Homo sapiens: one gene and its partners. The protein of the gene in region 1 interacts with the protein of each later gene in a pairwise test. Each region holds a gene or a part of one and is shown in the gene's direction. Other genes may lie near its edges.

The links.
Region 2: the proteins of AKAP7 (region 1) and CEP76 interact in a two-hybrid assay, tested with the Homo sapiens proteins (3 studies listed by BioGRID).
Region 3: the proteins of AKAP7 (region 1) and SPA17 interact in a two-hybrid assay, tested with the Homo sapiens proteins (3 studies listed by BioGRID and IntAct).

What each region holds. Positions count from the first base shown.
Region 1 is NC_000006.12:131,278,439-131,282,189, forward strand, and holds part of AKAP7 (A-kinase anchoring protein 7), read left to right. Parts: intron 1-3,091; coding exon 3,092-3,288; 3' UTR 3,289-3,751. UniProt on the Homo sapiens protein: Probably targets cAMP-dependent protein kinase (PKA) to the cellular membrane or cytoskeletal structures.
Region 2 is NC_000018.10:12,682,086-12,685,836, reverse strand, and holds part of CEP76 (centrosomal protein of 76 kDa), read left to right. Parts: intron 1-3,751. UniProt on the Homo sapiens protein: Centrosomal protein involved in regulation of centriole duplication. Required to limit centriole duplication to once per cell cycle by preventing centriole reduplication.
Region 3 is NC_000011.10:124,672,211-124,675,961, forward strand, and holds the start of SPA17 (sperm surface protein Sp17), read left to right. Parts: upstream 1-1,693; 5' UTR 1,694-1,742; exon of another isoform or gene 1,743-1,892; intron 1,893-1,983; exon of another isoform or gene 1,984-2,283; intron 2,284-3,027; 5' UTR 3,028-3,054; coding exon 3,055-3,208; intron 3,209-3,214; exon of another isoform or gene 3,215-3,352; intron 3,353-3,360; exon of another isoform or gene 3,361-3,751. Other genes in the region: SIAE (sialate O-acetylesterase isoform 1 precursor), read right to left, coding at 1,432-1,498. UniProt on the Homo sapiens protein: Sperm surface zona pellucida binding protein. Helps to bind spermatozoa to the zona pellucida with high affinity. Might function in binding zona pellucida and carbohydrates.

The sequences.
Region 1 (3,751 bases):
AGGCTCATCAGTTCCAGCTAGTATAGGGTATTAGTCCGTTCTTGCATTGCTGTAAAGAAATACCTGAAACTGGGTAATTTATAAAGAAAAGAGGTTTAGTTGGCTCATGGTTCCACAGGCTGTACAGGAAGCATGGCTGGGGAAGCCTCAGGAAACTTACAATCATGGCAGAAGGTGAAGGGGAAGCAGGCATATCTTACACGGCCAGAGCAGGAGGAAGGGAGAAAATGGGGGAGGTGCTACACATTTTCAAACAACCAGATCTCATGAGAACTCACTCACTATCATGAGAACAGCAAGTGGGAAACACACCTCCATGATCCAGTTACCTCCCACCAGGTCCTTCCTCCAGCATTGGGGATTACAGTTCCGCAGGAGATTTGGGTGGGGACACAAATCCACACTACATTAGCTAATCAGGAAAGGTTTCATGGAGTAGATGGTATTCTAATTGCTGAAAGAGAGGGAGGGTCGTCTAGAAATTGGGAATGGTGTGGAAGCCTCTGAGGAGATGTTGGAAGCTGACAGTGGAGGTGTGCAGTGGTGGGCAGGCAGCCAGGAAAGGCAAATTTTGGAAAGCCTTGGCAGACAGACGTTTCTCTGTAGAGTAAATAGTGACAGAGATGTATTAGAAATAATAACTAAAGGTTTTATACCTGGCACATTGAAGACGGGAGAAATCATGAAGCACAATTGACAAAGCTTGGTAATTAAGGGGGTTAATGAGGGAAAGGAAGGCATCAAAGATGGCTACAATCTCGTTTTGAGCTTGACTGCCTCGAATAATAGTAACAGCATAAACAAAAATAGGACATCAGCAGGGAAAATTCACTTTTTTTTTCTTCTTTTTTGAGACAGTCTCACTCTGTCACCAGGCCGGAGTGCAGTTGCACGATCTCGGCTCACTGCAACCTCTGCCTCCTGAGTTCAAGTGATTCTCCTGCCTCAGCCCCCTGAGTAGCTGGGGCTACAGGTGCATGCCACCACGCCCAGCTAATTTTTGTATTTTTAGTAGAGACAGAGTTTCACCATGTTGGCCAGGATGGTCTCGATCTCTTGACCTCGTGATCCACCTGCCTCAGCCTCCCAAAGTGTTGGGATTACAGGCGTGAGCCACCGCGCCTGGCCAAAATTAGCTTTTTGTAGGAAGATTCTTGTGTTTAAGATAACAGGGACACTTCACTGTGGACTAGTAGAAATCACAGAAGCATGGAACATTAGACCCAAAAGGGATTTGGAGGTTGAGCCATTCATTGGACTCAAATTCAACCCTGTCATCTTGCTGATGAGAAAGCTGACTAGATTCAGGAACAGCCCCCAGGGTGCAATGTCTGGCCTTGATACAGAGCACAAGTAGGATGGCAGATGTAGACAGTCATTTACAGTGTTTTGGAGGGTACTTAAAAAGTATTCCTTCATTTGCAGTTGGATTTTTCCCTTTTAAATGGGAAGAGTCATTATACAAACAGTTCCAGTTAATGCATTTGGAGATGTTGTCTGTAGAGTATAAACACCGTGTTGTAAGGTTGAGATAAAATCCCTAAATATTAGGCAATATATTCATTCATTCCTACTGATAAACAAAAAGTCTTAACTTGCCACCCAACATGACATTACCAATGAATTTACTTTCATAGTAAATACATTACCAATGAATTTCTTTAACCGTATTATTTAGTAAGTTCTATTTAGTTATTACTGAGTTGACATTTACTCAATTCTAAACATATTTTGCACTGCAGATGTTCTATCTTGGACATCTGATCATGGGTCTGGGGTGCCATATTGCCCATATTTGAGGAGAAGGCAGTTGCTAAGGGTTCCCACTATTAGTGTTTCTAGATGGGTCTTATCCTACCCTCTCTTCTGCTTAGGGTGTTGCTAGGAATGATGGGGATGGTTATAAGCACAATTAGTCTTGATGGGTGTTACATACAAGTAGGGGGCTCTGAAGCAAGGTTGGGGGCCAGTTCTCACCCTTGGCATACCTGCTTCTGTTCTTCAATCCCTATTACATGTGAGTACAGGAAACAGTGTCCATCTTCCAGCTCACACCCTTTGTATCTGCCTGTCTCAGACCCAGAGATGCAAGTGCAACACTCACTGGCTTTGCCTTCTAGAACCCATGGGTAATCTTGCAAAACTGAGCTGATCTTAATGTGCGAGCATCCTGTGACTTCTTTGCTTCCAACCTTGTTCTTTCCTGGGTCCCCAGCTCGATGGGAGGAGATTGAGCACTGAATGGTCACTCTCTTCTTTGTCTCCCTTAACTGGGGAAGGAGCCCCTTAGTTCCTTTTCCCAGTTAAAGGAGTCTGAAAGAGAGTGACTGGGAAATGTGTAGCATGAGAATAGTTGGGAACCAGCTCTTTTAGAATAAAATGAAAGATGGAATAATTAGACCTGGATTATCACTCCCAGGGAAGTAAAATGACCATAAAATATTTACATCTAGTAATTTATCATCATAATCCTAATTTTTCTTTAAAGAATTTCCTATTTCTTAAATTGCAGTGATAGCACTGGGATTAAAAAAAATATTAGTCTTACAAGCTTACTTTAAACCAATTCCTAGTGGTAGTAACTGCCTTTATCTTCAAGGCAGCACTGAGCATTTATTAACAACCAACCTATAGGCCAAGCATTTTTAAATTAGTGATCTTAAGTAATGAGATGCTAGGGAAATCTTGATGACCTGATATTTGATATTCGAGAATGAGAAGCAGACATAGGCCTACTTAGTGAATTCACATGTCTGAGACTCCACGTGGTGGGGACATGGACGTTAGTAGTAGTAATTAGCCTTGGATGAGAGAAGAACAGAAATTCACATATAAATGGGAAACATCCGGCATTGGTAGGTAGAGCTTGTCTAGATTGGGACTAATGAACTACTTTTCAATCTGAAGCCTTCAGGAATAGACAGGCTCCTGCTTCTGCAAATACCAAATGAAAAGCCAACCCACTGTTCTTGAATTTATAGATCCAATTTACACTTGCTCTTTTTAACCAATGGAACTAGCCGGCCCCTGCATGCCAAGTTTCTATGGCAATGTGATCTCAGTGACCTCTCTTCTCTATTGTGGAATGTAGGTGAAAAGAACGGAGGGGAGCCCGATGACGCTGAACTAGTAAGGCTCAGTAAGAGGCTGGTGGAGAACGCGGTGCTCAAGGCTGTCCAGCAGTATCTGGAGGAAACACAGAATAAAAACAAGCCGGGGGAGGGGAGCTCTGTGAAAACCGAAGCAGCTGATCAGAATGGCAATGACAATGAGAACAACAGGAAATGAGCCCGGAACGCAGGCCCCCATGTCTCTGTGCAAAGCCTCCCTGCTTCCCTCTGCTGAGTCTAGGGACTGACTTGCAGCGTGCTGTTTAAGTTAAGTTTCTCTGGTGCAATCTGTGAAGATTGCCTAATACTTTTCATGATCGATGTGTTCGCATTGCTGAAACACAACAGAAGAAAAATGGAGTGCTGGGACTGGCAGAGGAAATTAATTGATGAAAGAAGAATGGCCCAAGTTTCATTCGCCCTCAGCCACGCACAAGGGAAAGGGAACTTTGGGTTATGCCTCCTGGACGCAAATTAAAGGCCGAGAAAGAGGCCTTGCCATCAATGGAATACTGCCATTTATATTGCTTAGCAGGGCATTTGACTACTTTATCTGAGGCCAGAACTCTCACACACAGCTATCAAGTGCTAAGTTTAAAATAATCACTGTTGGAATTGTCATCTGTACAATTAGTCCATAA
Region 2 (3,751 bases), on another chromosome or scaffold:
AACATGGTGAAACCCTATCTCTACTAAAATACAAAAAATTATCTGGGCATGGTGTCGTGTGCCTGTAATCCCAGCTACTCAGGAGGCTGAGGCAGGAGAATCACTTGGACCCTGGAGGCGGAGGTTGCAGTGAGCTGAGATCGCACCATTGCACTCTAGCCTGAGGACAGAGCAAGACACGTCTCAAAAAAAAAAAAAATACTATTTTATATAAGCCTTGAGTATCCACGGATTTTGTTTTGCAAGGGTCCTGGAACTAACCGCTTTGGGGTGCTATCAGCTTGACCACGTCAGAACCTTGTTCTGTTTTTCATAACATTTAAATATCAATACACAAAAAACTCAGCATCTTTATTTTCTCATGTAGTTTCTTATTTATTGTGATTTCTGTGATGTAGGGACCTACAAGTACTAAAATGTCAGAAATCAAGTTGCAGAATGAATTAGGAACAGCACCAGGACCAGACCATGGCTTTCTGGTACTACTGATGTGTTGCAATTTGCTCAGATAATACATCTTTAAAAAAGAGAAAATAAGGCTGGGCGTGGTGGCTCATGCCTGTAATCCCAGCACTTTGGGAGGCAGAGGTGGGTGGATCACCTGAGGTCAGGAGTTCAAGACCAGTCTGACCAACGTGGAGAAACTCCGTCTCCACTAAAAGTACAAAATTAGCGTGGTGTGGTGGCACGTGCCTGTAATCTTAGCTACTGAGGAGGCTGAGGCAGGAGAATTGCTTGAACCTGGGAGGCGGAGGTTGTGGTGAGCTGAGATCGCGCCATTGCACTCCAGCCTGGGCAACGAGCGAAACTCCATAAAAAAAAAAGAGAAAATGGCAGTACAAAATTAATATAGAAAAAATATTAAAATAGAAAAAAATCTTGAATTGCATGCTATTTAGTTTGTTTAGTTTGTATTTAAATACAAATGTATATTTAATTACACTTTTTGAATGACTTGATTTTAGTAAACTAATTTTATAGATTATGGGATATTTCCTAATCTGTGTTCTAAAAATGTTGATAGTATGATAACAAACAAGTAAAACTATCTTTAGGCCAGGCGCGGTGGCTCACGCCTGTAATCCCAGCACTTTGGGAGGCCGGGGAGGGTGGATCACCTGTGGTCGGGAGTTCTAGAACAGCCTGGCTAACATGGAGAAACTCCATCTCTACTGAAAAAATACAAAAATTAGCCAGCCATGGTGGCGGGCTCCTGTAATCCCAGCTACTTGGGAGGCTGAGGCAGGAGAATCACTTGAACCTGGGAGGTGGAGGTTGCAGTGAGCCGAGATCACGCCATCGCACTCCAGTGTGGGCAATAAGAGCAAAACTCCATCTCAAAAAAAAAAAACAAAAAACTATCTTTAGCCTGGGTGACAGAGCGAGACTCTGTCTCAAAAAAAATAAATAAAGGTGACAGCAGGCCAGGCATGGTGGCTCATGCCCGCAATTCCAGCACTTGGGTAGGCCAAGGTGGGCAAATCACTTGAGCCCAGAAGTTCCAGACAAACCTGGGCAACATGGCAAAATCCCTCTCTCTAAAAAACTATAAAAATTACCCAGGCATGGGCCAGGTGTGGTGGCTCACGCCTGCAATCCCAGCACTTTGGGAGGCTGAGGCGGGCGGATCACACGGTCAGGAGATCGAGATCATCCTTGCTGATACGGTGAAACCCCATCTCTACTAAAAACACAAAAAAAGGAGAATCACTTGAACCCATGAGGTGGAGGTTGCAGTGAGCTGAGATCGCGCCACTGCACTCCAAACTGGACGACAGAGCAAGACTCTGTCTCAAAAAAAAATACATATATATATGATATCATATATATGATATATATCATATATATATTTAGATTTTTTACTGTACAAACAACAGCATTACAACAGTAATGGTGAAACTTTACCTATAATTCTATTCCTAGTTTATTATTTCTTTTTATATTTTTTCTGCTGTATATGTATCATTTATTTCATAATTATAATTGTAAATAAATTTTTGTATCTTGCTTTATAATTAAGCATTATGCTATGAACATTTTTCTATGTGTTGCTACAGTCTTTCTGATTTCCTTTTTTTTTTAAATGAGACAGAGTTTTCCTCTTGTCGCCCAGGCTGGAGTGCAATGGCATGATCTCGGCCCACTGCAACCTCCGTCTCCTGGGTTCAAGCGATTCTCCTGCCTCAGCCTCCCTAGTAGCTGGGATTACAGGTGCCCGCCACCACCCCCAGCTCATTTTTGTATTTTTAGTAGAGATGGGGTTTCACTGTGTTGGCTAGGCTGGTCTCGAACTCCTGACGTTAGGTGATCTGCCCGCCTCTGCCTCCTAAAGTGCTGATTTCCGTTTTTTAATGAGTGTTTTAAGTTTCCTTGAGTCAATATACAAAATACATTTAACTATTTCCCTATTGTAGGAACTGCCAAGTTAGGCTCTTTTTTTTTTATTCAGTGGTTTTGTTGTTGTTGTTTTCTTTTGTTTTTGTTTAGGACGGGGTCTCGCTCTGTCGCCCAGGCTGGAGTGCAGTGTCACGATCTCGACTCACTGCAACCTCCGCCTCCCAGCCTCAAGCAATTCTCCTACCTCAGCCTCCTGAGTAGCTGGGACTACAGGCATGGAGCCACCATGCCTGGCTTTTTTTTTTTTTTTTTTGGTATTTTTAGTAGAGATGGGGTTTCTTGGCCAGGGTGGTCTCAAACTCCTGGCCTCAAGTGATCTGCCCGCTTCAGCCTCCCAAAGTGCTGAGATTACAGGCAAAAGCTGGCACACCTGGCCATAAAGTTAAGCTCATTTTAAATTTTTTAATGTTGCCATGAATGAACTTTCACACTGACTATCTTTGCAGATATTTTTATTTTACTTCTGAATTTTCTTTAGGACAAAATCTCAGAAATAATTGGGTCTAAAAGGTTGATTAAGCCAGGCGCAGTGGCTCATGCCTGTAATCGCAGCACTTTGGGAGGCCGAGGTGGGTGGATCACTTGAGGTCAGGAGTTCAAGACCAACCTGGCCAACATGATGAAACTCTCTCTCTACTAAAAATACAAAAATTAGCTGGGTGTGGTGGTGCACGCCTGTAGTCCTAGCTACTCAGGAGGCTGAGAATCATTGGAACCCGGGAGGAGGAGGTTGTAGTGAGCCGAGGTCATGCCACTGCATTCCAGCCTGGGTGACAGAGCGAGACTCTGTCTCAAAAAAGAAAAAAGTAAATTAAAAAATAAAAGATTGGTTATTACATTTTTGTAAAGCCACTTGAAGAACTATAAAATGCTATTTGTTTTCTTACAGTTAATTTTTTTTAAAAAACTTTAGCACCACCAAATCCAATTTTTTGGAGAAAGAAATTTCTTGGCCAGGTAAGGTGGCTCATGCCTGTAGTCCCAGCACTTTGGGAGGCTGAGGCAAGCGGATTGCTTGAGTCCAGGAATTCGAGACCAGCCAGGGCAACTTGGTGAAACCTTGTCTCTACAAAAACACAAAAAATAGCTGGGCCTGGTGATGAGTGCCTGTGGTCCCAGCTATTCAGGAGGCTGAGGCGGGGGAATCACTTGAGCTGGGGACATCAAGGCTGCAGTGAGCTGAGGACGTCAAGGCAGCATTGAGCTGAGATCATGCCACTGCACTCCAGCCTGGGTGTCAGAACTAGACCCTATCTCAAAAGAGAGGAAAAAAAAAAGAAATTTCTTCATTCGGACACTCAACTCAAATAGTTATTTTTGCTTTCGCGTGTAGTCTTCCTACACTTAAATACGA
Region 3 (3,751 bases), on another chromosome or scaffold:
TTTTTAGGTCTTCAGTTTTTTCCTTCATTTGGGGCTGGAGTAGAAAAACAGGAATTAGTGTTATGGGGAAGAGAGGGCAGTGGTTGCCTCTGGTGAGGAGCTCCGGATGCATTGGCGAGGAGCACAATGGCAGGCTCAATAGACTGGCAATGTTCTAGTTCTTAAGTTGGGTACTGCTCTCATGGGTGTTCATTTTATTGTGTCATTGTTACATATAATTTTGTACATCTCAAGCATTACATGGTAAACATGGGCACAGGGAGAATGACTTAAAGGAAAAACGTCAGGATACGCAACCAAGTAGAGTACTAATGAATGAAAAATGTGATCAATGTTAATGAAGGTGATGTAACAATAAGACCCAAAGGAGGAGATAAAATACTGACACTAAAATAAACAGCCTTTAACTGAAAACCTAATAAAATATCTTTTCCCCACCTCATAAGATGGATCTCAAAGGTCACTGAGTGGAGATAAGAGTCAGGAAATGGCATACAGAGTGCTAGCATTTTGCACTTTTGTTAGACTCTGAACAATCATTTATGGGCTGCAGTTTGTCTGAATCTAGGTACTTTTCCGGCTCTCAGGTAGAGCAGGAGTCATTTTTCTGCACGCTGTTCTCCTACCCCAACTATCATTTCTTAACAGGGATCTCTGGGGTCCACTCTTTGAGTGTTTTGAAACAGAAAGGAAGAAATCCAACATTATCACTTTAGTTTGCATTATCAGACAGATTGCACCTTCTGCTTTCTCCATACTGTGACCCAGTGTCCAGCCTAGGGTATTCGAATGGCAAGATCTGACCTGCGCAACAGCCAAAGGGAGCCACCAGCCTCCCCTATGCCACTCACATTTTCCCACCACCAATATCTGTAAGCGGTACCAGAAATCAAAACTGAGCCTTAAATAGTCAGAGCTAGTGAGGGGGTTGTATTTCTTAGCCCTGATAACCACTTAAACGAGTAAAATTTAATTCCCCTAAGGAACCCCGCCTGAAGCAAACCCTCCCCAAGGGCACCACTGAGGGGGTAGCGCTGAAATGTTTTGGAAGATTCAGTCACCTGTTTCCAAATATTACCTAACTAGCTTCGCCTCCTTCCCTCCGAGCTCCCCTGCAGTTACTCCAGGACCCCGAAGGCCTCTTTCTGGGCACATTTGGGCCTCCCCACTCAGACAAGCCGCACTTTCTCCCTGCTCACAGGCTGCATGTCAGGGATGGTAAGTGGGGGGTGGAGAAAGTGGAGAGGCCGGGGTTCAACCCAGCAGACTCCTGCAGACCGGGCCTCGGTCGGAGACGCGAGCCCCTAGCCTAGCTAGGTTCCTTCGTCGACCTTGAGAAAGGGGCGCGGATCCGTGTCCCGCAGAGGACACGGGGTCTCGGAGCCCGCACAGGCTGAGGGGCAGGGGTCCGGCCGAGCCGGGCCGCCTCACCTGCACTTCTGTCGGCCCACAGGATTAATGGCAGCACCAGCCCGAGTACAAGCCCCGGCGCGACCATGCTTGCAAGGATCTGACCGCCGCCTAGGACTGGGAAAGTGGGTTCCCGGCAGGGGCGGGGCCTGGGCGGGGGCGAGGCCGACTCCACCCTTTTGCAGTCCTCGCAGCCTCCCGCGACCTCAGGACTGGGCTGTACTCGCCCCTTCTCGGCCGCCGTAGTTTTTTTTTTTTTTTAAAGAAAAAACGGTTACCCAGCAACTAGAAAAACAACCGGAACCGGCGGCACCAGCTCGGAGAGAAAGGAGGTGAGGCCGCTTCCCCACTTCCTCTCCGATACCAAGACCTAGCCTTTTCCCTTCGTCTCTCTTATTCTCTCAGCATCCCAGACACAGCCTCGGAGCCCTGGGCCGTTTGGGAGCCGAGGCAGCCCATTCTGCGCGAGTCTGAAATCCCAGGTCCTCAACATCCCGCCCCCGACTAGACCCGTCTGCCCCCTCCGCCCGCCCTCCTCTGCCCACATTGGTTCAGAATCTCGCCAGCTCTTTTCACCACTCTAGAATGGTTCGATACCCCCATCTACTGCTCCCTCAGAAAAAGCAAAAGAGAGGAGTCAGGCGTGGTGGCGCGCGCCTGTAATCCCAATTGCTCGGGAGGCTGAGGCGGGATCATCGCTGGAGCCCAGGAGTTCGAGGCCAGAGACCCCCTCTCAAAGAAAAAAAAAGCGATGAAACGAGAACCCTCCATAGTCTGAGCCTCATTAAACCGTCCAGTTCTCCCAACCTGGACCCCTACCACGGCCTCCGCCTCTATTCCGCATTGACGCACACTCTCACATTAACAGGCCAGGTCCCGGAGGATTCTTTTCATACTCAGTAGTAGCTCAGCCCGCTGCTTAGCAGCTACCCTTAATCTAGCCCTTGTATTTCAAGACAGAAAGAGACAACCTGATCAAGAAGAAACCGAAAAATATAAGAATTCTAAAACTTTAGAGGCTGGGATTTCAAAATCATGACACACAGCCCCATCCCATCCCATCCCTCCCTCACACACACGCACGCACAACCCCATTCCACAGTACGAAGGTGTTCGAAGCATTGTGGGTCATGCTTCAGAAGTGGCAGCAAGGGGAAAGATTGTGCAACTTCTTCATTCAACAAATTAATTTCTAGAACCAGGACTAATTTCTACTCTTTAAAAAAAAATAGACCTCAAAGAAGGTCTTCTCAGCAATTGACAATGAATTTAACTTTTTAGCAATCATTCTCTCTAAATTCCTGTGTGATAGCAAAAATTACCCTTACCTTTTGAGCATATAAAGGGTAAAGAGAGAAAAAGTCATATTGAAAATTATGGGTTTTTTGCAGGATTTTAAATGATTTGGCCTAGTGAATGGGTCTGTGTTTGTATTATACTAATTCACAATGGAGATTTCAAAACTCTTTGGAAGAAATGGATGGGCTTGGGTTGTGTTAGGGAAAAAAGAATTCAAGTCCAGATGTATGAGTCTCAGAAATAATTTGTTGGCATAGTTGTGATTATATAAGTAAAATCAGACAAATTTAAAGACAGTACTCTTTAATGAATCTTTAGGTTCCATAGGCAGTTCTTACCAAGAAGATGTCGATTCCATTCTCCAACACCCACTACCGAATTCCACAAGGATTTGGGAATCTTCTTGAAGGGCTGACACGCGAGATTCTGAGAGAGCAACCGGACAATATACCAGCTTTTGCAGCAGCCTATTTTGAGAGCCTTCTAGAGAAAAGAGAGAGTAAGCTTTCTAAAATTAGTCATTTTTTAAAATAAGAAACTAAGCATTTGTTTATGGTAAAACTTGCTTAAGACCATCTCCATTCTGCAGAAAGCCTTTTATGAGGCAGGGAGTTTCAGATAACAGTTCTTGCTCTTTGAAACAGTATGTACCTCTTTGATATGTTCTCTTAAATTCGTTTCATATTATCGAAGATTACCAGTTCATTATTCAGACCGTCTTCATTGTATTTCTCACGGACATACAGCGTGGAAGGTAACTGCAAAAGAGCATACATTTCTCGGGAGAAATCAGTGGGGGAAAAAAAGATCATACAGTCTACCCTCGCCACGTTCCAGCATACTGTTCCTATGCATCCCTGGCAGCTGACTGTTATTCCTGAGATGAGTATCTGTGGTTTCCTTTCAATTTTGATTCCTTCCATTTGAAAGTATTTTAAGTACTGCAAAAAGAATTCTGCACTCTTTAAATAAACTGATATTCACTGGGGTATATGAAACTGTTCTGCAATAACGGCACAGACAAACTGATTTGAAAGGTGGA